Homo sapiens: one gene and its partners. The protein of the gene in region 4 interacts with the protein of the main gene of each other region in a pairwise test. Each region holds a gene or a part of one and is shown on either strand. Other genes may lie near its edges.

Region 1 (6,249 bases), on a different chromosome or scaffold from region 4:
ACAACAGAAGAATAACAACAGAGGCTTTGCACTCCTAACATGGCAATAGCAGGGAGATACAGACAGCTCTTAGACCCATCGGAGTCATGGTAGAACCACCTAAGTGTGGCAGGCAGGAAGAAACTATAGCTGACATAACAGACAGTTTGTTTGTGAACAAATTGGAATCGTAGTTCCAAGGAGATTACTTGATATAATAGTATATGCTCAATACATATTAATTCCCTTTCTTTCTCCCTATGAAATAGGCCAGAGCAAAAGAAGCACTAACTAGAGATCCCATCCAGCTAAGGAAGAGTGGCTTCTAAGTCACGTGGCTTTCTTGTTTATTATCAGAATGAAAGTACAGGCTTATGCCTTAATAATTTTAGTTTTTAAAAAAGAGAACTGTTTAGGGGAAAAGGTTAATTTTCTTTTCTCTCAAATACTATTTGTAGTCTAGGAATGTCTGATATAAAAATTCTTTTCCCTATAAATTTCGATCACTACTTCATCTAACTTCACTTCTAATATATCTAATTTTTTTAAAAAAAGGTTACCTGTAGATCAGTTTGAACTGAATTTGTAATGTTTTGTCACCTTAAAATGCTAGCTACTAGAGGGGAGAGTCTTTGTCATGGGTGTATTTATTAAAGGTTTTTTGAAGGCTGCCAGCATTCTGTAAATATGCAGTAGCTCAGGTCCTTAAAGCACTTACTTAGAATAATAGCAAAATATTGTGGGCACCTCACCATTGAGAAACTATTTTTCAGAGCTTGGTATACTTTTAAAGTTTAGCATCTTATTTGCCTTGCTAATCTATTTAACTTTATGGAAAGTATTTACTGCTTCTGATCAGGATTTTTTGTTTGCTGTCAAAGTAAAAGTCACTACCAGTGTCACTATTTGCTATGGAAGCCACAAACCTTGTAGTCATTTCTTAATTATTTTCTTTCTTTTATTTTTCCATTCCCACATTCCCCTCTCATCCCCTTTTAATTCATTAGCAAGTATGCTGCCAGTTCTGCTTAGTCCGTCTCTCTCCCTCCACTGGTAAACCCTAGCCCAAACCATCTTCATCTCTTATCTGTACTAACGCAAGAGCCCCTTAACTGGTATCCCTCCTTCCATTTCTTGATCTACTAAAATCCATACGCCACATAGTGGCTAGAATAATTTTTTAAACACAAATTCACCATGTTTCTCTACTAACTTGGAATGCTTAATGTGTTCCCATTGTACCTAGAATAAATCCAAACTTACTTTCCAGGGTCTGCTCTCCAAGCTGTACATGACCTGGCCCATAGCCACCTTTCTAAACTCGTCACATCCATTCTCCTCATTGCTCATGGTGCTGTGGACAGTCTGGTTCCTTTCTGTTCTTCTCCACTACCAAGCTCATTCACACTGCCCCTTTTCCAAGGCCCTTCCCTCTTTACTTACCTGGCTTCTTGCAAGCCAGGTCTTAGCTCTAAAGTTACTTGCTCAAAGAGACCTTTTATGACTCCCCAGTCTAAGAATACACCTCTCCATTTGTTCTTCTGTGCCGTCTTTCTTTAATGGCACTTAATCACTTAAACTAATTTAAATTAAATAATTGGTTATTTAAATCATCTTTTTCATTTATTCTCTACTTTATTTGTTTGTCTTCCCTGCCTGAAGGGAGGAGCTAACTGCATTAGAGGTGTTGAAATTCACCGTTAGATGATCCCTGGGCTAGAATTTTAAAGGATGTGGGGATTTATCAGGTAGGGAATATAAAGGCAAGGAAGATGTAGGTGTATGTACTCATTCGTATTTAACTTGTCCAGTTTATTAAGTCATTTGAATTTTGTCAGAAGCTAGATCACTTCTAGTAGTTTTTAACAAAGTAATTCTCAAAAACCCAAACTATTGATTTGGTTTGCCTCCCAAATCTACTGAAGGCTTAAGAAGTAGATTTTAGTTTAGGCCAATGTTTTTAGTTTAAGTTTTCCCTTTATTTTAAGCTGAAGCAGTACACTCGTCCAGGAAGTCATGTTGTGATTTTCCACTTACAGTTGATAGAAACCAGAGACAGGCCGGGCGCGGTGGCTCACGCCTGTAATCCCAGCACTTTGGGAGGCCGAGGCAGGTGGATCATGAGGTCAGGAGATTGAGACCATCCTGGCTAACACGGTGAAACCCCATCTCTACTAAAAATACAAAAAAAAAATTAGCCGGGCGTGGTGGCAGACGCCTGTAGTCCCAGCTACTCGGGAGGCTGAGGCAGGAAAATCGCTTGAACCCAGGAGGCAGAGGTTGCAGTGAGCTGAGATCGCGCCACTGCACTCCAGCCTGGGCGACAGAGTGAGACTCCGTCTCAAAAAAAAAAAAGAAAAAAAAGAAACCAGAGACATTGGTAGGCCAGGCACGGTGGCTCACGCCTGTAATCCCAGCACTTTGGGAGGCCGGGGCAGACGGATCATGAGGTCAGGAGATCAAGACCGTCCTGGCTAACACGGTGAAATCCTGTCTCTACTAAAAATACCAAAAAAAAAAAAAAAAAAAAAAAATTAGCTGGGCGTGGTGGTGGGCACCTGTAGTCCCAGCTACTTGGGAGGCTGAGGCAGGAGAATGGTGTGAACCCAGGAGGCGGAGCTTGCAGTGAGCCAAGTTCGAGCCATTGCACTCCAGCCTGGGTGACAAAGCCGAGAGTCCGTCTCAAAAAAAATAAATAAAATAAAATAAAAAAAGAAACCAGAAACACTGGTTCTCATCCTTGGCTACACATCAGAATTATCTGCAGAGCTTTAAAAAAGTACAGGTACTAGGGTCCCATTGCAGAGCTTCTAAATCATAACCCCTACCCAAGTTTTGTGAAGCTCTGAAGTAGGGAGACTCTTAGTTACTCAGTATAAAATACTCTCACTATGGGCATGATTGTTTTTCATTTCTAGAACATGAGAAACATTCATGTTTAACTATAAGTACAAAACATATTACCAAGCCAAATAGCCATGATTTGTTTTATTAACCCTAATGACTCAGTCCCATTAGCATCAAATCAGAATTGATGGTAACGTATTTTGTTAGCAGCCATATGTGTTTGTGTGTTTATATAACATAAAACTCACTTTTCTTTGAGGATCATTAAAATTTTTTTTTTACAATACAGAGTTCCATAATAATATACAACTCACTTTTCTTTGAGGGTCATTAAAATGTTTTTGTTTTTTTTTTTTCCCATTACAGAGTTCTTTCACTGATTTTTTTTTCATCTGAAAATAGAAGCAGTTTTCTTTCTTTCTTTCCAATATGTATAGCTTTCCTTTTCTTTCTCTTGCCTTGTTGCGCTGGTGATAAATTAGTGGCATGATGTCAAGCAAGACCAGGTATTTTCGTCTTATTCCAGATCTTAGGGGGAAAAATCATTCAGTCTTTCACAGTTAAGCATAATGATTGCTATAGAATCTTTGTACATGCTCTTTATCAGGTTGGGGAAGTTTTCACTGAATTCTTTTAAGAGAAATTCAGATTTGGATTTCTAACTTAGACTTTTAGATGTATAATTTTGTTATTCTACCTTATAGCACTTTCATTGTCTAAGTACATTTATTTCACGTACATTACATATTTAAGATTGTGATGTTCAAGAAGATATAAATGATGTTGTTTTATTTGTACTGCTTCTAACAAAGTCATGTGCAATTTCTAACAAAGTTATGTGTTTTTAAGGTTGGTAGAAAAAAGTTTTAATTAGGTTTTAATTCTTATAAGGCTGGAACTGTTAGGATTCAAACATAGAATTAATAGATAAATACTATAGATTACATAAAAATAGTAAATAATCATGTTTGATAATTAAATTTAAATTAAAATATAATTCTTTTGATTTATCTAGCCAAACGTCTCAAGTCCAGTACCAGTTTTGCAAATATTCAGGAAAATTCAAACTGAGACCTACAAAATGGAGAATTGACATATCACGTGAATGAATGGTGGAAGACACAACTTGGTTTCAGAAAGAAGATAAACTGTGATTTGACAAGTCAAGCTCTTAAGAAATACAAGGACTTCAGATCCATTTTTAAATAAGAATTTTCGATTTTTCTTTCCTTTTCCACTTCTTTCTAACAGATTTGGATATTTTTAATTTCCAGGCATAGCAATGTTATCTATTTTAATGTGTATTTGTCACAATAACAGAACATGCAAGAACAATCATTATTTTATTTTATAGGCATTTGATTACTATTCTAGACTTCTGGTATCTTCTTACTAACATAAATATCTCAAGTAGAAAAGTTTTTGAAAACTAACATTTAAAAATTAATCAGTTACAGTAAAGACTTTGAAAAAGAAATGTACTTGTTAGGAAGTAGCTTAATTACCCCCCATTGCAGTATTATTGTTATATATATAGTTAATATGTTGTACATCACAATAATATATAATTCAGTCTCTAGTTTCCCTAGAGTCATTTTTGAAACCACTGATTGCAAACCTCCCTGACAATTTTTAAAAGTAGTAAGCCACATTACATTTATCTTTGTAAAAAGATTTATGGTAACTGGTTTCTTACTTGACTTTTATAAATAGTATTTTACATCTTATTTTTGCCTTTATTTCATAAGTAATTTAAAAATCACTGGATTGCTTTATTATATTCAGGGCAATATGGATTATTTTTATACCAAGGATTTGCATCGTGAATTACATTAAGTTATTTGGCAATTTATAATTTATTACTACTTTAAATCAAATGTAGCATTATCACACTGTATTTAAATTGTCATTTTTTAAAGGAATATTTTCTTCTTAAGATATATAGAGGATTTTGGAGAAGAGAGACAGGAGGGGTAAAACCAGCTTAAGGTTCAGCGAGCAGAAAGGGACCTGAGAGGATGCTCACTGTAAGACTGTTGGACAGTGGTGTGTATTGAGGGGATGAATCGGAACGATAGTCTCATGCAGAAAATAGTGAGATTAAGATCATCCTTATTGTTTCTAAATTATTTCAATCAGATGAAAGTGATACGATTGAAATGAAATCACATAGTTCGTGCTCAGAAATTCTATTTTGGTATGTTTGTATTAGCCTTTAGAAAAAACACTCCGTTTCAGAATTGTTCACAGTTTTATTTCTTAGGTTTTTAGAGTTCAGGATTTCATTTATTAATTTCTTCTTGCTTTTTTGGTGGAAATAGGCTTTGTTGTAAACATTAAGAATATAAAATCTCCTCTATATAGAAACAAGAATTTTGTTAAAAAGAGAATTTGAATCCCTTCCTATACTATAAAATGCTCTATAGGGAGACAAAGTGTTTCTTTTTTCTTTTATGTTTACTGTTTATGTGGAGTGAAATATAAGGCTCTTGGATGTATAACATACTCAAAAGCTGTTACACTTTCTCTGATCTGCTGTGATCCACTGAAAATGTGCTGGGGTTTGTTCTGCTGTCACTGTTTATGCTGCTGGAACTTAGCACTGTCTTGATTTGAAGCATATGATTGAGAGCCATTTGAAGCAATCTTCATTAATGCAGATAAAACAAGTTTACATGTGCAGAGTTAGAAAATGACATGTTCAATTCTGTAAGTGGTGACTTTTTGAGCACCTTTCAGTATTATGTATTTGTAAAAACCATTGTTTTTGGATATAAAGCTAATAAGCACTTTAAAAAGGAAAAGGCAGCCTTTACTATTTTTTCTGGTTGAGTCATTGCTCTTTAGACCTAGCATCAGCAATAGATTTCAAAGATAAGTATTAAGCGCTACCCTAAAGTGTGTAAGTTTTTCATTTTGTCATATTGAAAAATGATTTGCATAGTACTGAATGTTGACACACAGCTTATATGTATTTACAAGAATATCTTTAAGTGTTTTTTTGACACATTAAAATAAAGGAAATAAGGAAATTGTAAGCTTTATTTGGATTTTTAAATACATTTTTAAAATTTCAGATGTAATTTAACATCACATTTGTTTTTCAGGTATTGAGTTTAGATGCCTACTTTTATGAGTACCATCAGCTGGACACAGTGTCTCATACCTGTATTTGCAGCACTTTGGGAGGCTGAAGCAGATCGCTGGAGCTTATGAGTTCGAGACCAGCCTGGACAACATAGTGAAACACTGTCTCTGCAAAAAATACAAAAATTAGCTGGGTATGGTGGTAAGTGCCTGTAGTCCTAGCTACTTGGGAGGCTGAGATGGGAGGATGTCTTGAGCCCGGGAGGTGGAGGTTGCAATGAGCCAAGATTGTACCACTGCATTCCAACCTGGGCGACAGAGCCAGACCTTGTCTCA
Region 2 (6,816 bases), on a different chromosome or scaffold from region 4:
GTGTCTATCTGCATGCATGCATGTGTGTATGCATGCGTGCATAAGCATGTGTGTATGTGTGTTTGTATGTGAATGTATGTGTGGGTATGTGAGTGTGCATGAGCATGCATGTGTGTGTATGAGTGTCTGTGTGTGTGAATGTATGCATGGGTGGGTGTGCGTGCATGTGTGTGTCAGTGTGTGTGCAATGTGTGTGTATGTGTATATGCATGTGGATCTGTGTGTGTTCGAGTGGATGCATGTGACTATGAGTGTGTGTGGCCGGGTGACTGCTCTGGACCCCTCCAGGGCACTGTGGGGAGGGGTGAGGAATAAGCACGAGGATGCCTGGAGAGCCAGGCACTGGCCTGCCCTCCCTATACCCCAAGGCGTCCTGAAATCTGGCAGGGATGGCAAGCAGGAGGGACCCCCAAAGGTCATCTGAATCCCCAGGCTCTGTGGCAGCCAGGGCTGGGCCTGCCCAGACCACAAGGCCTGGGATTAGGAGATTAAATCCAGGGTGAGGAGGCTTTAGAGAGGCAGCAGCCCCTCCTACTCATTCCGGCAACCCCAGCCTCTGAGTCCCACATCCAAGTCCCATATCCACACATCCGGATCAATCTCTACAATGCACTAGGCCTGCAGGAGGCCAAAGCTGGCAGGATGGGCTGGCAAGGAGCAGGAGAGGTCAGGAGGCTCAGTCTCCACCTGCTGCTGACCTTGACTGTGCCCTCTGCCCCACAGCACCCCCAACTGCAGCACGTGGGCCAAGCCCAGCCAGCTGTTCCCTGGGTTCTTGAGGCCCTGGGGGTGGGGGCACTGGGGTGGCGAGAGGCCAGCCAGGCTGAGGGTGGGGATCCCAGTGGGGCTCAGGAGCTAAAGAGCAAGCTGGCTTCGTCAGGTGGGGCCACTGTGCCCCTGCCTCTGCCCAGGTGCCATGCCAAAGGACTGGGATGCAAAGCTCTGGGATCCCAAACCCTCCTGTAGCAGGGATGGGCCTATGGCCGGAGGCCACCACCTAAGGGGCAGAAGCCGGCAAGGACGCAGGCCCAACGCTGCCTGGCTGTGTCCCTGGGTACCCTGGCCACCCATGGACAGGTTCGGGGCAGGGTGTGGCCCAGCCCCCCATGGTTCTCAGAGACGCTCCTGGGCATGGAGTGGGTGATGGGCAGTGGGAGGTGACACCTTGAGTCCCTTTGGCCACCCATATTGTGGGTGGTGAGCCACATCCTTTGGGCCTAAGAACACTGAATGTGGCAATGACCTAGAGAGGTCCCCAGACTCTGCAGGCAGACAACCACGTGCTCATCCTACCAATCACAGCCACCCAGAGACCCAGGCCCACCACTCTCCACCCGTGGTAGCGGCTCAGGCCCCTCCCAGCTCACTGATAGATGTGCACGGATGGTCTCAGGCCTGACGGGATTGGCCAGCTAGGCATGTGCAGGGCTCAGTAAATCCCAATGACCTAATGCTGGTAGCCCCTCCATAGACCCCAATCTGGTAGGACCAGGGCTCTGTGGGAACGTCTCCCTTCCCGTCCCCACCACACCCAGTTCACCTGCTTTGGCCGGCCCGGCTGAGTGGCCTGAAGAGATGCCCTCAGTCTCCTCCAGGGCCTCCTCCTCCAGCTCACATCTCCCCCTCCACCCTTCACAAATCCCACAGGAGGACTGCCCTACCCTACTCCCAAAGGGCATGGTGGGCCCAAGGTCAGCAGTCATGACATCAGTGAGGACTGCGGGGCACAGGCTGGGCGGCCGGGCAGTGACCCCAGTTTTAATCCTGATCCAGCCAAGCATCATCCCTGGGCTTTGGGCAGAACTCCAGGCTCCACCTGTTTGTGGCTGGCCGGCTGGAGCCCCAGATGGGGCAGTCTGTGGGACATTCCAGTGGGGAAGGGGGAAAGGAGGCACCCAGGGGGGCAGCACCCGGCTGGGAGCAGGGCTGGCACACAGCAGACATCTTGCAGGCCCTCACCACAGGGACCTCCCTGGGCCCGGCCCGGGACCCCTGCCTTGACAACTGATTCCAGCCTCTGTCCACCCTGCGGACCTGCCCGGGGAGGACACCTGCAGGGCCTCAGATCCATCTGCAGCCGGAGTGAAGCTGTTCATCCGGGCCCTGCCTTGGACCCAGCACCCTCCCGAGACTTCACCCCGGGTAAAGGCTGCCCTCCTCCGATCCCACGCTGGGCCCCTCAGCCAGCGGCCTTACCGCATCCCTCCTCATCCCTCCGGTCCAGAGGGTTCCTGGGTCTTGACTCCAACCACCCCATCAACCAAACAAGGAACCCCTCTAAATAGACGGTGTGTGTTCAGTGCAAGGGCAGACCTGAGCCCTGGCCCTGGCCCATCCCACACCCTGCACCGCAAGCTCCACATCTGCTCCACTCCTGACTGCCCCACTCCTGACTGCCCCACTCCACAGCCTGGCTAAGGCTGGTGGCCAACCACACCTGCAAAATGGCCGCCGCAGGTGCAGCCCCAACCCCCACGTGGACCCCAGAGCTTCCCTTCAAACCCTCTGCTGCCTTCTCACACCACGAGGGTGCTGGCATGGCTTCCCTGGCAAAGGCCCCGCCAGCCTGAGTGCGACCTGGTGTCCCGCAGAGCCGAGCACGGTGTCGCGCTGTGCGTCCCCAGGGTGAGGCCAGTGCCAGCCCTGCGAGGCAGGGGCCTCTCCGCACCGCCTCCTCTCCGCAGCCGCAAGATCCAATCCGCTTGCCCTGGCAGGCCTTTAATTCCAGCAATGCAGGCACCCCTTGGAAAGGGCTGACGCTTGGGGAAGGGGTCCTCCAGTCTCTGGGGGAAAGTCCCTATTCCCGGGGACGTGGGCGCGCATCGGGTCCGCGCCGGGCGACGTCGCGCTCGCGCCCAGCAGGCCCCATGACTTGGCATTCCCTCCTTCCCCTCCCCCTCCCGCCCCTGCGGCCGGCAGGGCCCCCCCAACCCCACCTACCGGCGCCCAGCGCCCCGCTCCTGCGGACCCTCCCTCCCGGCGGGGATGCTGCCCCGGCCCTTCCCAGCGAGAGGGCAGCGCGGCTGGTTTGGGGGAAGTCAGCGTGAGGAGCGGCTTAAAGCGGGAGTGCGAAGGTCTTCGCGGCCACTGTTCCTTCGTGTCATCCGAGCCCGGGCGCCGGGGGCGCGCCGCCAGCCTAGACCCTGCGGCCCCGCAGCCCCTCCCTCGCCGCCGGGCCACACCTGTTACAGGGGCGCTGGCTGCTGAGACGCAGGCAGTGCTCGCCGGCGGCCCCTCCCAGGTGCTGGGTCTTTCTGGAAGGGAGCTGGGGTCTCTGGCGTGGGAGGGGGTGATGGGCAGGCCGGCCGTGCAACGAAGCGGGTGGCCAGGCCCCAACGCCGCAGCCCCCGCCCCGCCCGCCTGTTTTGCTCCCGGCTCCAGCATCCGCCCTCCCCCACCCCGGGAACCGGAGCAGCTGCCCGCGCCCGGCCGCCCTGCGCGCTCTCCCCTCGGGCCGAGGCGCTGCAGCCGCGCACCCTCCCAGGTGCGGCGTCAGCGTCCTCAGCCCCGCTCACCATCCCTCCCCTCCCCCGCCGTCTGGGCGCAGCCCCTCCCGCAGCCCCGCCGGTGGCTCCTCTCCAGGGAAGCGGAATAGCCGGGGAAGGGCGGGGGTATCCCGATCCCGCCGGCCGGGCGAGCCCTCCCGAGGGCGACCCCCGCCCGCCTAAGCCGAGGGTCCCGCTGCAGCCGAGATCGCGGCAAAGGGACCTTTTCCAGCGGCACCTGAAGGGCGGACACCCCTGAATTTCCCCCATTGTTCTCTGCGGAGATGGAGGAAGGTCTGGAAGTGAAGGGGCCTCGCAGTGCCTGCGCTTTGGGCGGCAACAAGGGCGCCGGGCCGGAGCTCCCCGCCCTGGGCGCAGTGGGTGCAGGTGCGGGCTGCGGGCGCGGGCTGCCGGGCGCAGGTGCGGGGCGAGGGGCGCGGGCGCGGGAGGCCGGGCGGGCGGCGGCCTTACCTCTCCGGCGTCACTGGCGGCGGCCCCGCATGGGCACTGGCATGGGCGCGGGCTCTCGAGCCCGGAGCTGCTGCCGCTCGCCGGCTGCTCTGCGCTGTGACGGCGCCGCCGCGTGACGGGCTGCGCGCCCCCGGCCCGGACCGCCCCGCGCCCCTCCCGAGGCGCTGGTTGGCTGCGCGCGGCGTCCGAGCTCCAGTCGCCAGCTGGTTTGTCGCGCGGGGAGAGGGACGGGCGACGCGGCCGCCGCGGGGATGGGGCTGGGGACGGAGGGGGCCGGGGCCGGGCTGTGACGTCACCGCTGACACCGCGGCGGGCCCCGCGGAGGGTGGGGGACCGACACCCGGCTCGGACGCAGCGTCCCCTCCCCCGGCGTGCCCCTGAGACCTCGCGGGGGAGGGACCCGGCGGCGCCCCGTCCCGAAGCCCCGCGTGCACCTGAACTTGCCCGCGGACCCCTCGCCGGGCCGTCCCCCACCCTGGCCCCTTTCGAGTGAAATCGTAAAACGTCCACCTGCCCCCGCTCTGAGCCAGCGACAGACGCATCGTGGGGGGCGGGCGGGGCTGGGGAGGGAGGGCTCCTTGCGCCAGGGATGCTGGCTCCGGGTGTAACAGGTGCGCGGTGAAATCGCATCTTGTGTCGGGGCCGGGGCGCCGGGGGAAGAGCAGCAGTGACCCAGGCCCTCCCCGCCGGATGATGCAACCCGCCCGCGGACCCGCCGCCTCGCCTCTACCGCGGCTCGTGGGGACCCCCCGCCCTCCTCTCGCCCCACCTCTCCAGGCCCCCATTGTCCTCACCCCAGCCTGTCCAGTTTAACTTCCTTGGACCCCCAAGTCACACGCCGCTCGGGGGCCACCCCGGCAAACCCCAGCCTGCGTCACCCGCCCCCAGCCGCCTTCCTAGTTCCAGGGGCTGACTGGTATCTCTGTGCGCGCCACCGTCCTCCCTCCACCGTCCCAGGGCTGGGCAACTTCGACAAAGCCTCTGGGCAGCTCGCCCATGGGAACCTCCCCGCACTGCGGTGCGGGGGTGCACGGATTTCGGGCCACCCTGAACCCCGGGGCTGGGTCCCCTCCAGCCCAGCCCCTGCCATCGAGCCCCTGCCATGGGCATCCTGGCGTCGCCTGGCTAAGCCTCCCTGGCGCCCAGCAGGGGCCTGCGCTGCCCTAGCGGCCTCGCCGTTAACCATTTCATCCACACTCCTGGGAGAGCCGGCTTCACCTCAGTCCCGACAGCTGCGTGCGAGCGCCTTGCAGGTGGCTGGGGGAGATTCACATCCACTTCTGCAAGACACGGGCCCCCCACTCCCAGCCCCAGCCCCGCCGAAACCAGCTAGACAGCTCCTCCTCCTTCACTATTTCCTGGAACCGCCGGCATGAAAGAGAAATCAATTGTTCTTCCTAACCCTGGCAGAAACAATAAAACCATCTGGGCTTCTGGGGCTGGGGTCTTTATCACCTCCGTTTTCCTCATGCTTTTTAATCTGGCAAGTTCTCTATTTCTCGAGGCAATAGACATTTTTCTAGGAATTAATCTATTTCACGTTAATATTTAAATGACTAGCATATCTTTTTTTCTTTATATTCTGGCTTTTTATGGTTTTGTTTGTTTGTTTTGACAGGGTCTTGCTCTGTCTCCCAGGTTGGAGTACAGTGGTGCCATCTTGGCTCACTGCAGCCTCAGCCTCCCCAGCTCAAGCAATCCTCCCACCTCAGCCTCCCTAGTAGCTGGAACTACAAGTGTGTGCCACCACGCCCAGCTAATTTTAGCATTTTTTGTAGAGACAGGATTTTGCCCTGTTGCACAGGCTGGTCTCAAACTCCTGAGGTCAAGCCATCCACCCACCTCGGCATCCCAAAGTGCTGGGATTACTGGCATGCATTTGGCCTGTATTTTGTTTTTTGCATTTTTCTCTTTTAATATTTTTAAATATTTTCAGAGCTCCAACTTTTAGTTCTGTTAAACGTCTTTCCCGTTATTTCATTTGCTTCTGTCTTTCTGTATTATTTCCTTCCTTTGTGGTTCTTTGGATTTGATCTGTTCCTCTGTCTTGAACCAAATGCTTAGCTCCTTTTTAAGCCTTCTGATTTTCCAATAGATCTACTGTATTAAAAGCTACAAAATTCCTTCTACAGAACTGTCTTGGCTGAGTCTCACAAATTTGGACATAAAATGTTTTCATTATCATTCATATCTAATATTTTCTACTGTTCCTGATGATCTCCTTTTAAACCCAGGGTTATTTAATAATGTTATTTACTTTTCAATAGTGTTTCTTTAATTATAACCTTTTGTTACCAGGTTCTAATTTAATTGCATTGTTGTCAGAGAACAAGTCTGTATTCAGTCAAGATCCTGGCAGGAAGCAGATGGCACACTCAAATTGGGTAATTTGAGAAGGGTTTGATAAAGAGACTATTGATAAAGGTGTGGGCAGGAGGTCGGAGAGCCCCAGGGGCTTGGTGGCACTGCAGCCTTACTGCCTGCAGGGAGCGGGGCGGGCAGAAGCAGAGGCTCAGGTGGAGGGGTGCAGCCAGCCAGAGTTTCCTAGGAAGGGAGCCAGGGCAGCAAACCCTGGACCTCACTCTCCCTCTTCCCCTGATCTGGTAGTGCTTTGGCTGAACCCAAGGGGAAGCTGGAGGTCAGGGGCACCCAAGGAGTATGGTGCATTTCGGGTGGTCTCCTGAAGAATGGGCAAAGGGAACTTAGAAGCACAAACAGAAACTAGCTGCCCAGTCTGCATGGCCCTGTGCCTCTGGAATTCATTGAGGCTTCTTTAGGTCCTAACACATAGTCTATTTCATACATGTTCTACCTGTGTTCAAAATGGTTGTACTCTCTGCTTGATGGGCAGAGAGTTCTC
Region 3 (5,842 bases), on a different chromosome or scaffold from region 4:
ACGGTGGGCACCGTGCCGATGCTCTGCCCGTACAGGATGATGCTGTCCGGGCTGATGCCGTACCTGGCGGCGCCGGAGCAGGGTCAGCCGCGGCCTCCGACGCGCGCGCACCCTTCCCACCAGCGGGCGTCCCCGGGCCCAGCTCCGGATGCGACCCTCCAGTCTCCCCACTCAGCCAAGTCAGTGGGTCAGGCTCAGGCTCCACACCAGTCCCGAGGGCCACCCCCAGCCCCCAACACCGTGGCGGTGGGCGAAGCCAGCGGCCCCGCCCCGTTCCCTGCGCTGCCGTTCACTGGCGTTTCCTAGCTAGGATCTGCAGGGATCCTGCCTACGGAGTGCCCCTGGGGCGGGGGTAAGGGAGGCCCTGGCGCCTCTCCTCCTCCTGGTCACCCCTAGGTGCACACTGGGAACTGTGTGGCCCCCACATCCTGAATGCTTCACACCTTCCTGCCAGGGTTAGAAAACCGTTCCTGGTGCACTGGCCAGGACAGCGGACACTATTCCTCCCTGCAGCCCTTGCCCACCCCCTTGGCCATGAGGAATTCAGGCAGCTGTGTCCCCAAATGTCTCCACCCAATTTTGGACTCTCGGAGTCCCCACGCCCAATGAGATGCCAGTGCAACCCAGGTCAGCATCGAGGGTGGTGGCTGCGGAGGTGGCACCCCCTCCCACCAGCACCTTCCCTTGGGAGTGGACAAGTCCTCGGCCACCTCAGCACCACCAGCTCCCACCCAGGGGCACCCTCACCCCCAGGTCATTGGTGTGCGGCCCCTGACCCAGCTGATCCAGCACCAGTTACAAGGCCTCCTCGTGCCCAGTCCCAAGCACACGGGACCCACCTGCCACCCTGCCCATGCCGGGACCCCACAACTCTCCTCCCACACGCTCTAGGCTCTGATCCCAGGCAGACGCCCTCTTGCAAGGCAGGAGCATGGGCAGGTGTGCGTCCCCTCTGCCTGGCATCTCCACCAGCAGGGCTGTCCCCGTCCCTGGCCTGGAATCCCAGCCTCCTGGCAGCACTCCACAGCTCGCCACTCACCCATGCCCCAAAGGATGCTGCCTGGCTGGTGCCTGTGGCTCCAGCTCTGCCTCGGCCTCCCTGGCCTGCTCCCTGGCAGCCATGGTCAGTAGTGTGCTGAGCCAGCCCAGCCCTGCCACCTGCTACAGGCAGGAGCCCCGAGCTGCCACCTGGATGTCACCACTCAAACGAACAGGACACATCCCCGGTGGAGGCCCTGGGCACGCTCTGGCCTCCCCCTCACAGCTCTGGGCCTAGGTTCCTGCAGGACAAAGTGGCAGCAGGACAGATGGCCGAGCAGACAGAGCTCAGAGCTGGCCATGGCAGGTGTGACTCTGCCAGTGGCCCAGGCAGTAGAGACAGGAGGGGCCGAGGAAGTCGCATGAAGTGGTGATTGGTGTCAGCGTCCCACACTGCTGGGAGGCCCCCAGAGCCAGGGTGGTGCCAGGGGACCAGCTCCCAGGCCCACTGCAGGGACTGCCTGCATATCACCAAGGCAACGACGACCCCACCTCCCTAGGGCCTCTGACTTCTCAGAGCTGTGCCTGGTCCCTGTGGGAGCAGGTCAGACCAGTGGGCTGGGCAGGGCCAGGACGAGACAGGCCCAGTGGATGGTGAGCAGGAAAAGCCACCAGAGGCCCACCCGGGTCTCCTCGTCCAAAGCAGCACTGGCCCGGGCGGTGCTCAAACACCGGTGAAGGGCCCAGGCAAGCGCAGGGCTGGGGACGTGGATGACTAGGAGGGCTGGATCTGGAATCGAGGCTGGCCCAGACCTCGGATGTGTGCTGCGGGTCTGCACCTTACCCTGTAGGCCCTGCCCCAGGATGGCCAAGCTCCGCAGCCACAGGGCCTCATGGGCCAGTCCTCCGGACCTGGATGCAGCAGCCTCGCCTCACTTGGCCCCAAGTGCTGCCTCGGCCGATGGGCTCCCAGCCACACGTGCACAGACCCCCAGACCACCACCCACTCCCTCCCGCCGGGTGGCATCCACACCCCTGTGACAAGCTCAGCCCCTTCCCATCCTCAGGCCAGGGGTTCCCAGGGAACCTGGCTCCACAGGCCAGGGTGTGGGAGGACCGCCTGGCCACACCTCAGCCATGTGGAGGCGGCACCTGCACACCCAAGCTCGCCTGTCCGGCTCTCTGGCCCTGTGCATCCACTGTGGCTCCCCTCCTGCAGGGCCGCCCACCTTCCTCCCAGGGAAGCCCGCCCCCCGGCCCCCCGCCTGGTCCCCTCTTGGGTGTGCCCAGGCTGAGCTGCCCCCAGGGTCGCCCTCACCTGGTGCGCAGGGCCTGCCAGGCGGCGTCGATGTCGGCATAGAGGTTCCTCTCGGAAGGCCTGCCCGAGCTGGCACCGTAGCCGGAGTAGTCGTAGGAGAAGATGTTGCAGTGGAGGCGGGAGCCCAGGCCAATGTAGAAGCTGCTCATCTGGCCCAGGTCCACGGCATTGCCGTGCGAGAAGAGGACCGTGTACCTGGGACAGGCCGAGAAGGGCCGTTCACATCCTCGCTCCCAGCGCCCAGCTGCAGGGCAGGAGGATGCGTAGTGACAGCCCACCCCGGTGGCCAGCCATGCCCAGTGCCTCATTTACTCCCCTCCCAAGGGGGCCAGAAGCCAGTGAATGGAGAGGGGAGGCTACGACAGCACAGCTCCATCTCCGAGGGTTCCCCATGGGGAGAGGACAGGACAGCTGGCAGGGGGACAGGCAGCCTGGGCTGCAGAGGCCAGCCAGGGAGCCTCAGGATTCCCATCTGTGAAGCGGGACACTGGGACCATCGGTCGCATCCTCTCTCAGGGCAGACTCGCAGTGTGTGCTCAGATACTGCAGGCTTCACTGCCCTTCCTCCTGGAAGAACCTGGACCCCCGGGGATGGAGCGCACAGGCCCACCTTTCAGGACCTTCCCAGGGGAGCCCATGCTGCTGCTGGCAGGGCTATCTCCCCTCACCTCACAGAATGGTGCCCTCACTGTTGGGGCACAACTGGACCCCACCCCTGCCCCCAACAAGCAAATGCGGCCAATCTCTGCTCACACTCATGCAGCCCCTCCTGGCCCACCACCCTGCCCAAGCCCCAAGGCTGTGCTGCAAGGCCTGTCTGCTTCCCAGCACGGGAGCTGCCCCAGGTGGTGCCAGGAGCAGGTGGCCAGGCTGGCCCTGCCATGGACTGCTTCCTCCAGTTCCCCCAGGCCCCCACCTAGCCCAGCCAGAAGGTAAAGGCTCGCCCTCTGGACTCAGATCTGGTCAGAACCCCACCTGGCGAGAAGGTGGATGTACCCGCAGGCCAGGGCAGCCCCTGTGCCCCAGCTCTTGCCCAGCAGGCAACCACCAGGCGCTGGGTTGTTGGAGTCGCCCAGCCTGCCCACCCATGCCAGCTGGGGATGGCCTCCCTGAGCCTGGTGTCCTTGTCTGCGAGAGAAAATTGCCAGAGGGACGAGGCCGGCCTGACGGGGGATACCACCCTTGCTGGCTGGATGGCCCTTCACGGCAGGCTCGGGCCCTCGGGGGCACCACCAACCACACCAAGCACCGCAGGCAGAAACGGGAGCCCCAAGAACAGGGTGACCCAGCCCAGGCGCGGCCACAGCTGCTCACCTGGCACCAGGCACGCAGCGAACATACATGCAGGAGACGCGGTTGCCGCGGGCGCTCTTGGTGGGGAAGACCTCGATGGTGTCCAGCTCGCGCTGGCTGTACTGGAAGTCGGCACGCTCCGTCAGGTGCAGCTTCCAGCGCCCGGGTGCGCCCGAGGAGGCTCTCAGGGTCCCCAAGGGGGCGGCCCCGGCCCCACCAGGCCCCGGCTCGGGCTCAGGCACCAGGGAGTAGGTGGCCTCCGGCGGCAGGAAGGCGAGCTTGGCAGCGATGCGGCCGGGGCAGGGCGGGCAGCAGAAGAGGCAGCAGAGCTCACTCAGCGACAGCCCATTCATGGCGGGCGCCGCCCAGGCCGGGCCTCCACCGGGGCCCCCGCCAACAACGCCGCCCGGCCTGGCCCGGCAGGGGAGGGGTGGGGGTGCTCCGAGTCGCGGGCAGGGGGGAGAGCGCCCCCCCAGCTACCGCCCCAGACAGCAGCCCCGTTAGGAGGCCAGGGCCCAGCCCCATCGCGGTCCAAGCCGAGCCCCAGGGAGCCTCGCAACCACAGGTCTCCATGTCGTGCCGTGGGAAGCCCTGCGGGGGAACAGTGACATGTGGGGTCCTTTGGGGGTGCCACAGTCCAGCTGGGCACCCCCGGGAGGCGGGGCATCCACCCGTGCCAGGGGGCGGCATGGGCCCGGGGCCTGTCAGTCCCCATCCCCTCGGCCCTCCCCACGGCCTGTCAGGCACTGCACCCTACAGCTCAGGGGACCCCAATTCAGCCCCCTCTCCACAGGATGAAGGAACCCCCACCTTCCCTGAGCTGGCGATCACCACCTCTTGCCATGTGAGTACAGCCATGGCATGCGGGGCATGCAGGGGATATGACCCCAGCCCCGCCCACACCCCCGAAACGCCCGGCTCCAGCACCAGGGAAACCCCATGCGCCAGGACTCGGTCCGCACTGCTGCCCACTCCCTCCCCCGGCCCATCTCTGCCACCCTATGGGTGACGGGCCGCTGAGGCAAGGACAGAGCTCGAACTGAAGGGACCCACGAGGGACCCGAACAGGCCCCGCTACGTGAGCGTGCACAGGCGCCGGGTCCCACCGGCCTGCGATGTCTGGAGACAGAGGAAATACAACAAACAAAGGCTCTAGAAACAAAGGCAGGATACATCCCAGGCTCCTAGGGCCCCCAGAGCAGCAACAATGGCTCTTCTCTGTGCTGGAGCCAGGCCTGCTGAGGGGCAGGGGAGGTGGGCTGGCGTCAGGGGGTCCTTCTCCACCCCTGACTTAGGGTTCCGTGACCGTGGGCGAGTCCCTTGCCCTCCTGAGGCCTCAGCATTCTCATCTATAAGTGCAGACACCACACACCCCACAGGAAGTCAAGTGAGGGGGGAGGGGAACGAAGGTGCCTGATTGAGAGTGGAAACTCGGACCTTCTTCCTTGCTGCAGAACGTCATGAAACACATTAAGTCGACAACAGCTAAGTTGCTAAAGCAACCACAATAGTGTAAGGACCTGCCAACAGACAGACGTGAAGAAAACACGAAGGTCTGAGACGTCTATCTACCGACCACGCTTCTCCTTCAGACTGGAGCGAGGAGAGAGACACGCTCACAACTCAATTTCAGCAGAACACCCTGGAATGCTTGGCTTTTGGGTCACAGCATGAGAAAACCGTGGGGCCAGGAAGATGAGGCTCAAAGGCAGATGTGGACACAGATGGACATGCAGGCAGCTGCAGGCGCCACAGACACGGCTCGTGGGGACACCCTCACTACCAAGGAGCAGCCTCAGGCCCAGAAACACACCTGCTCCCTCAGGACCTGATGTGAGACCCACGTTCCTGTGAGCCGGACTCATGGGCACACGAGGAGGAGAGGAGAGAGCTCTGAAAGCCAGGGTGGGGCAAGGATGGCATCCCAGTGCCCCCAGACTCCCAGGCGGAAGGCAAATCGCACATGCAAGCACTTTTCAGCCGGGAGGTGGACTGTCAGGCTGGTTCTGCTTCTCAGATGGAGGCGAGTCTCCCTCCTGGAGACACCTGTCAATGTCTGGACACAGTTTTGGGTGTCACCACTGGGGACTGGGTGGAGGCTGCTTAGCACCCTGCAGTGCCCAGGACAGACCCACCCCAAAGAATGATCAGGCCCAACATCCACAGCGTCGAGGTTGATGTCAGCTTTTCAACATATTCTCAAAGAGGTCCAGGCCCTACCGGTGCTGCCCCGCTGGTGCTGGGGACTTGGAG
Region 4 (5,715 bases):
TCACTTTGACTGTGGACTTGCAGAGGGCTCCAAGTGTCCTCTGAAATCTGTGAAAAATTTTGTGCATTTTTCTGGAAAAAGTATCCCCTGGAGTCTCCATTTGACACTGAACACTGTTTACAAATATTATACCCTAAGACGTTCCTTTAAATAAAATTATCTTGTTATTCTGAGAAAAATCTTGTATTTAGGTATCTTGATGTTATAGAGCAGCAGCATCACAGATGTGATACTGATGCTGAAAAGGTTTTCCCCAGGCTGGCTTTTTCATTCAAGAAATTATCAGATGAATGAGATTGGGCAAGTTTCCACCTGTCAGTGTTTCAGTTTCTTCAAATCTAAAATGTAGGAGGCCAGCCCTGGCACAGTGGCCAACTTCTGTAATCGCAGCATTTTGGCAGGCCGAGGCAGGTGGATCACCTGAGGTCAGGAGTTCGAGACCAGCCTGGCCAACATGGTGAAACCCCATCTCTACTAAAAATACAAAAAATTAGCCAGGTGTGGTAGCATTCATCTGTAATCCCAGCTACTCAGGAGACTGAGGCAGGAGAATCACTTCAACCCGGGAGGCGGAGGTTGCAGTGAGTAGAGATTGCGTCATTGCACTCCAGCCTGGGCAACAAGAGCAAAACTCCATTTCAAAAAAATAATAATAATAAAATAAAATTTAGGAGGTCAGATTGTTCTCAAATTGGGTGCCTTGTAGCTCTAATTATAAAACTATTAGTTATTTCCTACTATGTGCCGACAGGAATGTCAAGTTGAAGAAGCAGGGCCTCTCCTGTCATGGAGCTCCTGGAGATGTGGGCGGACAGACCAGGACCCCTGGCCACACTCTCAGCACTCACTGGGGCTCGGGGGTGAGCCATCCACAAAGGGGTGGGCGAGAATGAGAAAAATACTCAAGGAGGCTACAGATGGACCAAGGATAGTGAAAAGGAAATTTCCACAAACACAGCAGGATGGGGACATCCCAGGAGACAGGACCAGGCGAGCCCAGGGGAAGAGCATGAAGTTGTGTGATCACTGCAAGTATACACAGATTGTGCCAGAAAGGGAGGGTGCTTACCAAACTATTAGGGCTGGGGGCAGGCAGCAGGAGGAGACTTAGAGAAGGGGTAGTCGGAGAGCATGGAGAGGTTTGGGCATCATGGCGAAGTGTCTGGATTTTTATCTTGGGAAGCCCTTGGATTTTAGCCTGTTTATATCATCAAATTTTGATTTTTGAAAGACCAGTAGGGCTGCAGAGTGAATTTGGAGAAGACCAGGGGCAGAAGACGTTAGAAAACTAATTCAGGAGTCCAAAGGGACATGGTGAGGGCCTAGCTAGGCCAGCTGAAGACGCTAGAGAGGAAGAGTCGGATTTGAGGCAAACCCCACCGTCTCAAATGACTCCCATATGTCTGGTGTAGGCAGACCAGGTGGTGGGGTCGTTGGCTTACTTAATTTTGCGTCGTTACGTTTTGCTTTCTTAAGTTTGCGTTGTTAAATTGGTAATATTCAGTTGACATGTTTGAATACTGAGTCCAAAAAGTTATTTTCATTTTGAATTAATAAGGAGCAAGATAATTTTTGTCCTTTAATTTATGGCTTCCACATATTTTTATTTTGTCATGATTTTTTTTAAGGCAAGGTTTTTCATCAATCTTTTAAAGTATTATACAACCAAAAACAGGCCGGGCACAGTGGCTCACGCCTGTAATCCCAGCACTATGGGAGGCCGAAGCAGGCAGATCACCTTGTCTAGGAAGAGCCAAACATCAGAGCAATCAACATCTCCTATGGGCTTAGTGAAATCCAAGCACTTTGTCATTAAATCACAAAAAACCTAAGACATTACCATCATCATCATCCCCACTTCAGGGGAAGAGCTCACTAGGACACAGAGTTTACCTTGCCTGAGGCCCCACAGCTATACAGTGACAGGGATGGATTTTGTTTTGTTTTGTTTTTGAGATGGAGTCTCGCTCTGTTGCCCAGGCTGGAGTGCAGTGGCATGGTCTCGGCTCACTGCAACCTCTGCTTCCCAGGTTCAAGCGATTCTCCTGCCTCGGCCTCCCGAGTAGCTGGGATTACAGGCACCTGCCACCATGCCCAGCTAGTATTTTTTATTTTTAGTAGAGATGGGGTTTTGCCATGTTGGCCAGGCTGGTTTCGAACTCCACAGCGCTGGGATTACAGGCGTGAGCCACCATACCCAGGCAGGGCTGGAATTTAAACACAGGCATTGTCTGCCCTCAGGCCCTGTGATTGGAACCTTCCAGGGTTTTGAGTCAACTTCCACTTCACCCCTGTGCCCAACCCTCCGGGCAGGCCAGCACTCATCCCCAGAGCCCTGCCACTGTGGGCCAGCAGGGGAAGCCTGGGCCTCCAGGTGTCAGCCCCCACGTTACAAGGAAATGAGCAAGGGGCAGTCTGTGCTGCCTGTTTTCTTCAAAGCAGCAGTGTGAGCCCTGCCAGCATCACTTAGAACTTGTGGGAAATAACAAGCATCAGGGGCCCCTACACCTACTGAGTCTGGGGTGGGGCCCAGGAACCGCTCTCACAAGCCCTCTGGAGCCTGCTGATGCCACTGACATTTGAGAACTGCGTTGATTATGCTTTTGGTTTCTCTTTGGCAGTTTGGATTTTTTGGATGATCTTGTTTGGTTTGGGATATTTAAAAAACAACAAGGCCGGGCACAGTGGCTCATGCCTGTAATCCCAGCAGCTAGAGAGGCCGAGGCGGGCGGATAACCTGAGGTCAGGAGTTCGAAACCAACCAACACGGAGAAACCCCGTCTCTACTAAAAAAGTTAGCCGGGTGTGGTGGTGGGTGCCTGTAATCCCAGCTACTCGGGAGGCTGAGGTAGGAGAATTGCTTGAACCCAGGAGGCGGAGGTTGCACTGAGCTGAGATCGCGCCACTGCACTCCAGCCTGGGTGACAGAGTAAGACTCTGTCTCAAAACAAAACAAACAACAAAAAAACCAAAAACAAAAAACAAAAACAACAACAAAAATCCCCACAAGCTCTAGGAGTTTGGGATAGAGATACAACTGAAGTCTCTAATACAGCTCCTACTCGTTTCTGTCGACAGGTGAGCTTAGACTCCCGGGTGAGAGAAGTGATCAACAGAAACATGGTGGAGCCATCCCAACACATATTCGATGATGCTCAACTTCAGATTTACACCCTGATGCACAGAGACTCATATCCTCGATTCATGAACTCTGCTGTCTATAAGGACTTGCTTCAGTCCTTATCGGAGAAATCTATTGAAGCATAGGATTTTTCAAATATATTTATTATTAATAAAATAATAAAAGAATTCATGGGCTACAACTAGCACAGGGAATTTAGAGGTTGTAGCATCTTCTGCTGGAGTAATACTCAGGCTATTCTAATAACAGATGATTCCTTCAACAGACTGCTATATATTCACCATGTAAACTGCAGCCACCTTTAGTGATACTTTTGAAAAAAAAAAATAAAGGGATATGGCTGTTGTAGAAAGATAGCGTATTTGCATTTACAATAACAGTAGCATGTTGTCAGTGGCCAAGGCTACACAGAAGGCTCCCTGCTGCCCGGAGCAGGTACATCCACCAGAGCAAAGGGAACCACTTTTATTTTGCATGAGTTTGGTAACTGATTACTCTCCCCTCAAAGAAAAGACATTCAGGTGTTTCTCAACGACATCTTCTGTCCAGCAAGCTCGGTTTGAATACGTCACTTACCAGTGCCATTGCAGGACCCAAATTCACAGTTCATAAAAGATGTGACCACTACATGTAAAAATAGCATTCTACTTGATCTTACAGTATGTATGTATGTATGTATGGAGACATATGTGTGCGTGTGGATGTCTACATGGTTAATGGAAAGCACTGTGCTCTGAAGTGGATCAGTCTCAAGTGTCTGGTAACAGCAGCAGTGCTTAGAAAATTCTTTTGTTGAAAAGAGTTACTGTTATTATCAGAATTTGCCAACCTAAAGAATGAATTTTTAAATTCATAACTTGGTCATGTTCACAACAAAACTGTCAAATAAGCATATTTCCATTTTTATTACTGAAAGAAATATGGGCATTTTCATTCTTTAAAGAAATAAAGCACAAGAATTTTATCTCAATCTTTATTTTTCCATATGTACGTATTTGGGAAATAGAAGATTAAGAAAGTAGGGATACGTGCAGCCTATCTTTTAGCTCCCAGACTAGGATTCTGTCCTTAGATCCCACTATTTTTATCATAGATAAAAAGAATAACTTCTCACAGGTAAAACTACCAGTTGGTAGACCTAGACCATCCTGAAGAAATCCATCTCTACATAGAATAGGAAACACACTCAAAATCTGGGACGCTCTGAGTAGTGGGAAAGACGCTACTTTGCAGGAGGCGGCACCGTGCTCCTGCCCTCGAGGGGAATGGTTCTCCTCTGGGTCCTTCTCCCTCCCTGGCCCCTCCATAGCCTGCCTGTATCTTCATGACTCAACTCAAGCCCCAAACCCAAGCCCCTCTCCTTCATTCTCAGGAAACCATTTTACCTCCTACTCTACTATGCAAATTGTGTCCGTAAGTCCCCTCAACTTCCCGTGCAACCTATAAATATATATAGATCAGCGTCTATTCTCATCTCCCTCAGTCCAGTCCCAGAGAACAATGTGCTCTCCTCCTTTTTGAGGTGTCAATCCCTTACATGTGCTTCCAAGTTTTCCAATCTCATTTCTTACTAAAAAAAAAAAAAAGGATGTGATTGCAAATAAGACATAAACCCTGCCCTCTAGTAGTTTACATTCAGTAAAGGCAGACAGACATGTCAGTGGCAACTCTGATATAGTAAGAACCACAGCAGGGGAAGAACAGCGCTGTGGGAGTCACGAAGGGTTATGGAAAGATTCTGGTGGAGATGGCACCAAAGTCAAAATCCAGAGAACAAGAAGAATGGATGTGTTGGAGGCAGAGAGGGCACTGGATGAGATGGTATTCATAACTGAGTGACCCCAAAGGAATCGACATGCTGAGAACGAGGGAAGACACACATGAAAGGACATGTTGGAATCAGTTGGATGGAGGGATCTGGGTGGGTGAGTCTAGGCTGGCGTACTGATTTTGGGGTTTTTCAGCACATAGGGGAATAAGATTGCCTGGAGAATTATGCATGAAAAGATAGCTGAGGGTAAATCATTGCAAGGATAGACAGAACTGACAGCCCCAAAGGAGATTTAGGATTCACCTTGTCAATAAAAGTAAGAAGAGTTGGGGAATATGGAAATATGGCAGCAAATGCATGGGAGTGTCTCGAGGGGCGGTGGTGAACAGTGGTAAATGAAAGACTCTTACTTAGAGCTTTGTTCCAGCAGTTTCTCCCCACCCTCCTGTATCACTGAGTTCACCTTGGCTTTTTCCCGCACCGTAAGCATGCTCGATTTCCCGGTTAAAAACAAACGCGCGTTCCACTGTAACAGCTGCCTCCTGTTGCCCCCTTTCTCATCAGACCTTTCACAATAGCCCACACTTGCTGTCTCCATTTCCTCATCTCCCCATTCTCACCTTGAGCTGCTCCAGTGCCCTCAACTTCTCCAAGGAGGCCTCTCCCTGCCAAGTCTACAGCGCAGTTTTCCCAGCCTTCTCAGTGGGCTGCTCAGCTCCTGATATCATGGATGGCTCCTTCCTTGAAACAGCACTTCCCTCAGCTTCTGAGGTGCTCTCCTAGTTCTCCATATTCTCTCTCT
Region 5 (5,779 bases), on a different chromosome or scaffold from region 4:
GCCTGCCTGCCCAGGCCACCTCCTGGGAGTGCATTGGGGACTCTAAGTGTAAAACTGTCATGAGGATGGTTTATGAAGTCCCAGGGACCACACCTGCCACTCAGGGAAGAGACCGCTGACCTCAGCCATCAGCCGTGTGCATCGTGAGGGGCAGCGAGCTCAGGACGGAGAGCTCTCCCTTGGTTCGGAGTCAGCACACCTGCACTCCCACACGCCCACCCAGCTGTGTGTCCTCCGCCGAGGGCGAGCCTCTCTGTGACTCTTCTGTAAAATGCACCCCATTCTGCCCACTCCTGCCACGAGACCCATCCTCTGCGATCCCGCCAGGCATGTGTGTGTGAATGCATGTGCAAAGCTCTCCATCAGAAGGGTGGTGTGGGCCCTGCAGGTCCTACCCCTCGGCCTTGAAGCTCCCTCGGGCTGCGGACTCTGCCTCCTGGGTCTGAGCATTAGAACCAGGAGAGGGGTGTCCCTGGGCAGAGCCAGGGGTGCAAACAGCCTGCAGCCATCTGGCCTTTTAAGTATAGTGTGTCGCATTTCCGGGTAGGAAGGTAGCATTTCAAGTTCAAAGAGAGGTCAAGTCATGCAACCATCTTTCCTCCAGCACTTTTGGGGTAAGGAGGACAGTTTTTGTTATGGTTTAGGGGAAATTTTCATGAAATTTCCACCATTACCAATAGATTACTGATGTCCATGGCAAGTGATCTGTTCTTGGTATTTTGTTTTGTTTTGTTTTGGTTTTTAAATGTAATCACCCATTGGTCAGGCCCAGGACTGGTCACCATGAGCTCTGCTAGCCACGGCCCCAACGATGCTTCCGGCTCTCATGGATTCCACAGCAAATAAAACTGTACTGACAACAGATGCACGCTGTACAGTGCCTCTGGAAGGTGCGGTGGGACTTGCTGGGTCAAAGCACGGCAGGCTCTGTGCTGGGCAAACAGGGCCCCGTGGCAGCCCAAGGGCAGCCTGCAGACGCCAGTGTGCCCGGCTTCTCCCATGTTCTGAGATGGGGGAGGGGAAGGTGTAAAAGAGAGCTGGATGGGGGCTGTGGGGACTGAGGGTCCTGGGAGGCTGGCCAGGGGCTCAGCAAGCGCCCACTTTGGGAGGCCTTGCCCTCTGGGCTGTGGTTGGACAGCACTAGGCCTGCAGGCTGGGCTGCCAGGAGGAAGAGCAGCTCCGGACCTCAGGCCCCCCCAGCAGGCGGCGATGGAGGGTGATGGGAGAATTGACGAGTGCTCGCGGGGTCTCACTCGGGAAAGGGCCGGTTAACTCTGAGCAACTGGGAGCCTCGCTCCCACCCCAGTGCCTGGAAACACAAACAGTATTTTATTGAGCCTTGGCTGCCGGGGCTCTGGTTTCAGGAAAAGCCTCAGTCCTGCATTTGTGAATTTTTAAGGAGGCAAACAAGGTGAATTTGACCTTCCTAGGAGTGGGAGTTAGGGAAAATTCAGGCTGCCCTACCAAGCCCTTGGAACCGTGCAGCAGGGGTCAGGGGAGGGATGGGCAAAGGCGGTTTGGCCCATGGAGCAGGTCTCCTGGTCCTCCCGGAGCACGGGGGGCGGGGAGCTCCAGCTCTTCATCAAGCGCCCTTTGGGGTTTCCAACTGTTTTCTGTTGTTCTCTGTGTGTCTTTTCCCCTTTTGCCTGGGGGCGGGGGCTGGAGGGGAACATACCTCTTATCTACATCACTCGGGTCTCATGTCTGAAGGGCCTGTCTCACCTGCCACCTACCTGGCCTTGGCCTCGACATCTGAGCGCCTCATCACCTCCTCTCCACATGCCCAGGGGTGCCCCTCCCAAGGCTGGCTGGGCAGGTCCCACGGACTAGGCCCCAGGAGGAGCAGTGGGCTTCCCCCAGGAAAGAGCAGAGCCAGCACTGCCTGCCTAGGGAGGGCACCCACTACCAGGCATGGCTGGTGGCTCCGTTTAAAGAAATCTTTGTCCATGTGGGAGTGGGAGGTGCTTCCCCATCCTGCCTGGAAGCCACGTCCTGGCTCTTACCGTGGACTCTGCAACAGCCGTGGTGGCCACATGAAGATGGAGGAACCTGGTGGCTCAGGGGCCCCTGATGTCACCGCCTCCAAGGCAACGGGACTGGGCAGGGCAGCTCCTCAGGAAGGATGATCCCACCTGCACGGGTCAGCCCTGCAGGGGGACAAGGCCCACCACAACCCCACCTCAGGCCACCAACTGGACCTGTCCTGCCAAGAAGGTCCCTTCCAATTTGTCCGGCAGCTGGTTCCCTGGATACAGCCCAGACGCAGCATCATCCTCATGTTCACCTCTGCTGTGCCCTACTTCCCCCGTAAATGACAACTGTGTAGTCACCCACGCCGGGCAAGAGAACATAGGTGCCACCTGGCGGGCCACACTTTTCAGGGGCCGTGCCTCGGGCAGGCCCGGCTCTCTGTTGTCCCGCAGCCCTCAGGGCTGGCGGTGGCTGCTCAGTGCCTAGGGAGTGCCCTTGCCACACAGCTGGGCAGCGAGCATGACTCAGCGTTTACACTCAACCAGCCGCACAGGCTCCAGAGGGGAAGTTCTCTGGGGTCCTTCTATGAGAGAGCATCCTGTCTGCAGCCCTGTTCTGGCTCCTTCCACATCATTCATGCATTCATCCCACGAGGACTATGGTACCGTGGGCTCGCTCTAGGGAAGCAAGGCAGGAGCGCACTGGGGCTACTTGGATTCCCGGGGCAGACACATATGTACCCTGCACACCCTCAAATGAGCAAAGCCACCCCACTGGCCCCTGGGTGAGGCCATGTGGACCCCCACACCTTTGGGGCCGGCTGGGCAAACCTTGAACCCCCAATTTCTGCGTGGCCTTTGGCTGCCCTCCTTCTCCAAGGCGTGACTCTTACTCCAGAGACTCAGGCGAGCACGTGTCCCTTACCTTATTTTCTCTCAATCAAACTGAAACCCATTGTGATCCCCCATAGTCCAGTGCGGTCTCTGTTATTATTACGGGTGTCTCCCTTCCTCCCCGTGCCCAGGACAGGCCATGAGCCAGAGATACAAGGGGCCCCAGGCAAGATGCAGGGCTCTCTGCTCCTGGCTCTTTATCGTCGTCGGGACACCCTTTGTCCAAACTCAAGGAATCCCGGGAGGTCTGGCTTTGCCGCTTTGGCTGGGACTCAGGTACCTGGGCATACCTGCATCTGTGCCCCCTCTTCGTCCCAGTGAGACGGACCCTCAGTATCCCCCCCAACATAGAACAGGAAGGTCTCAAGCCAGCCCCCTCCTCCAGTTCAATCACCCTCCCTCACATCCACCCAGAGAAGTCCAGACCTGTGGCCACTTCCATGCCCTCTCCAGACCAGGAGACACCTGCTGCTGACCTCGTGGAAAACTTAGATTTTGACATTCTGATGCTTCGGAAGTGGTGGCTCCTCCTCCTTCACCCCTCCGCCACCTGTGGGCCTCCTCTCTGCATCTCAAGAGAACAACCAGATCTTTGGGCTCCTGGGGTGTGTGCCATGCAATTTAGACGAAGTGCTTTGAAAATATGCCATTCAGTCTCTGACTAGGAAAATAAGTCTGACCTGATAGGTCCGATGTCATCAGCTCTTCAACATGAGACAAAAGAGGGGATTTTATGTTTTGAGTCATTAGAATGATATAATAATTTTCTGAATTGACATCTGGATGTTGAAATTAGGATGGTGCAAAAGGGGTCCAGGGCCTCAGGCTGGGCGCAGCAGCCAGCTCCCAATGACGCAGAAGCTGCTTCAAAACCCCCTCAACAAAGAGGGGCACATGCAAGTCACCAAAGTGGGAAGCCTTCACCAAGGCCACACCCAAAGTCTACTGATTGTCTGTCCAAAGTTCGTTGATTCCTGGCCATGAACAAGCACAATAGAAAAAGACACAGGGTCCTAGTGGCTACAAGTCAATGTGAATTGGCACATGGTCTAGCAGTTTTAAAATCTGACAGTAGAGTATGGCAATGGGCAAGGGCCAAGAAGTCCTGAGATGGGAGGTCAGCGCTCTAACTGGGCTCAGTGGAGGTCTGTGACCAGTGTCTGGACACTAGCTACAGGGGACCGGGCAGAGGATTCTGGGCAGAAGGAAAATGTCTAAAAGTACTTTGGGAGGGTAAAGGACAGGGGCCTTATTTAAAATAAAGACTGAAGGATAATAAGTGTCACCCAGGTTTGTGGATTATTGGAGGGGGCACCATCTAGCCATTCTCCACTTTTCCAGTGTGGAGAACCTGGGCAAAGGCGCCAGTGGTCACATGAGGTGCTGCCACGGGGCGGGCTCTGGGAGACCCACTCTAGACCGCTGACCTCTTGGTGCCATCCATTCTGCCTCCTAGAACTCTGGGGTTCTGAGTGCGTGCTCTTGGTGGGGGCCTTCCTCTTTGTTGGGAGAGCCGCTGCTGAAGGGGCCTCTCCCTCTGGCCCAGGATGTAGAGGACACGTGAGGACTACACAAGTGCAGGGGTGGGTGCGGGGGTGGGTGCGGCTTTCCAGCCCTCGCCTTCACTGCACTGGAAGCCTGCTTTCTGGTGTGACCTTTGGGTTCCCTCTCTGCAAGCAAACAACCAGCTCAGACAAAACCAACCATGACCACATCTCAGGTGGGTGGCACCTGGGTCACCCTCCCACCACAGCCCCTGGAGCAGTTTCCAGGTACCTGGCCTCCACTGTCTATTCCACTCACCTCCTGCTGATGTGGACAACTTTAGAAATAAAGTACCAGGGACCCCAGACCACTAGGCAAGAGCCCAGGTGCCCCCTGGGAAATGCCACCACCCACCCCAAGAGCAGGGTGGGGTCTAGCTCCTGAAACAGTCTCCTCTGGGCAAGTGCTGCCTTTCTTCAAAGTCCAGGCGCCCTCTTGGTTGTTGGATAAATCCCCAGGTTCTGCCCCATGATTCATGTAGACGGGAGTTTCCCCCGGTTCTCTGTCTTTCTGCCTGGCTGGGCCACAGATGAGTGCCCCAACCCGGCAGACAAACAGAATTGGACTTTTAGGGTCAGAGGCAGCCAGCCTGAGATGGAGTAGGGTGGGGGCTGGGGAGGGTGTTGGGACCCCGGGAAGGGGATGAGGACATTCCAGGGGAGGTGAACTGTTTGTTTCCCTGGAGGGTTAGACAAAGAACCGAGCTCTTGCAGATTTTGCCGGAAATGCAACTAGAGCTATTGATAGGGTTGAGGATGGGGTCTTTCAGGGTGGGTGAGTCCCTGGAGCTGACTAAAGATTAGTGTTAGTGCAGGTCAGATGAGGAGCTGCCCCCACAGGTGTCGCTCCAGGTGCCCACAGCAGGGACAAACCCCCGCCGACCCCCTGCCCCACGGGAGCTGGTTGCAGCTTCCCCTCCGCCTCCCCCACCCCACCTCTCTCTGTCCCTTCCCCCGTGCAGTGGCCTCAGGGTGGCCACCCACCTGCTCCCAGGGGACGTGAGAGTGTTAGCAAAAGCACCATGCCCTTCCCCTCCACCCTCTGGAGCCTTCAGGGCAGCCCCAAAGCGGTCCCAGTGTCTCTGAAGGGGCTGGGGACCCGGAGTCTGAAATTCAGCTGATGGGTCACCAAACTGGCCTGGCCTCTGAGCCTCTGCACCGATCCTCTCACCCCATCAGGTACCTGAAGCTGATCCAGGACACCAAGGTCTGTTTGTGTGGGGGGGCTGCCAGCTCCCCAGAATCTGGCCCACGATGGTTTTGATTAGAGGAAACACCCCACCAGAAAGCATCCCAGAGATACCTAGAGACCCCCTGTGGCTTCCCCAAAGTGTCCCCTCCCCTCCCCACGACCTGAGAGGCTGCCATGCC

The links.
Region 1: the proteins of RGS20 (region 4) and OSTM1 interact in a two-hybrid assay, tested with the Homo sapiens proteins (one study listed by BioGRID).
Region 2: the proteins of RGS20 (region 4) and KIF1A interact in a two-hybrid assay, tested with the Homo sapiens proteins (one large-scale study listed by BioGRID and IntAct).
Region 3: the proteins of RGS20 (region 4) and ABHD17A interact in a two-hybrid assay, tested with the Homo sapiens proteins (one large-scale study listed by BioGRID and IntAct).
Region 5: the proteins of RGS20 (region 4) and TBC1D16 interact in a two-hybrid assay, tested with the Homo sapiens proteins (one large-scale study listed by BioGRID).

What each region holds. Positions count from the first base shown.
Region 1 is NC_000006.12:108,042,433-108,048,681, reverse strand, and holds part of OSTM1 (osteopetrosis-associated transmembrane protein 1 precursor), read left to right. Parts: intron 1-3,841; coding exon 3,842-3,897; 3' UTR 3,898-6,249. UniProt on the Homo sapiens protein: Required for osteoclast and melanocyte maturation and function.
Region 2 is NC_000002.12:240,816,166-240,822,981, forward strand, and holds the start of KIF1A (kinesin-like protein KIF1A), read right to left. Parts: upstream 4,055-6,816; 5' UTR 3,957-4,054; intron 3,113-3,956; exon of another isoform or gene 2,941-3,112; intron 1-2,940.
Region 3 is NC_000019.10:1,877,625-1,883,466, forward strand, and holds part of ABHD17A (alpha/beta hydrolase domain-containing protein 17A), read right to left. Parts: intron 4,943-5,842; exon of another isoform or gene 4,181-4,942; 5' UTR 3,943-4,180; coding exon 3,611-3,942; intron 3,425-3,610; coding exon of another isoform or gene 3,272-3,424; intron 2,492-3,271; coding exon 2,297-2,491; intron 2,235-2,296; exon of another isoform or gene 1,281-2,234; coding exon of another isoform or gene 1,259-1,280; exon of another isoform or gene 1,123-1,258; coding exon of another isoform or gene 1,040-1,122; exon of another isoform or gene 70-1,039; intron 64-69; coding exon 1-63. UniProt on the Homo sapiens protein: Hydrolyzes fatty acids from S-acylated cysteine residues in proteins. Has depalmitoylating activity towards NRAS. Has depalmitoylating activity towards DLG4/PSD95. May have depalmitoylating activity towards MAP6.
Region 4 is NC_000008.11:53,955,192-53,960,906, forward strand, and holds the end of RGS20 (regulator of G-protein signaling 20), read left to right. Parts: intron 1-3,078; coding exon 3,079-3,267; 3' UTR 3,268-4,112; downstream 4,113-5,715. UniProt on the Homo sapiens protein: Inhibits signal transduction by increasing the GTPase activity of G protein alpha subunits thereby driving them into their inactive GDP-bound form.
Region 5 is NC_000017.11:79,930,713-79,936,491, reverse strand, and holds the end of TBC1D16 (TBC1 domain family member 16), read left to right. Parts: 3' UTR 1-4,149; downstream 4,150-5,779. UniProt on the Homo sapiens protein: May act as a GTPase-activating protein for Rab family protein(s).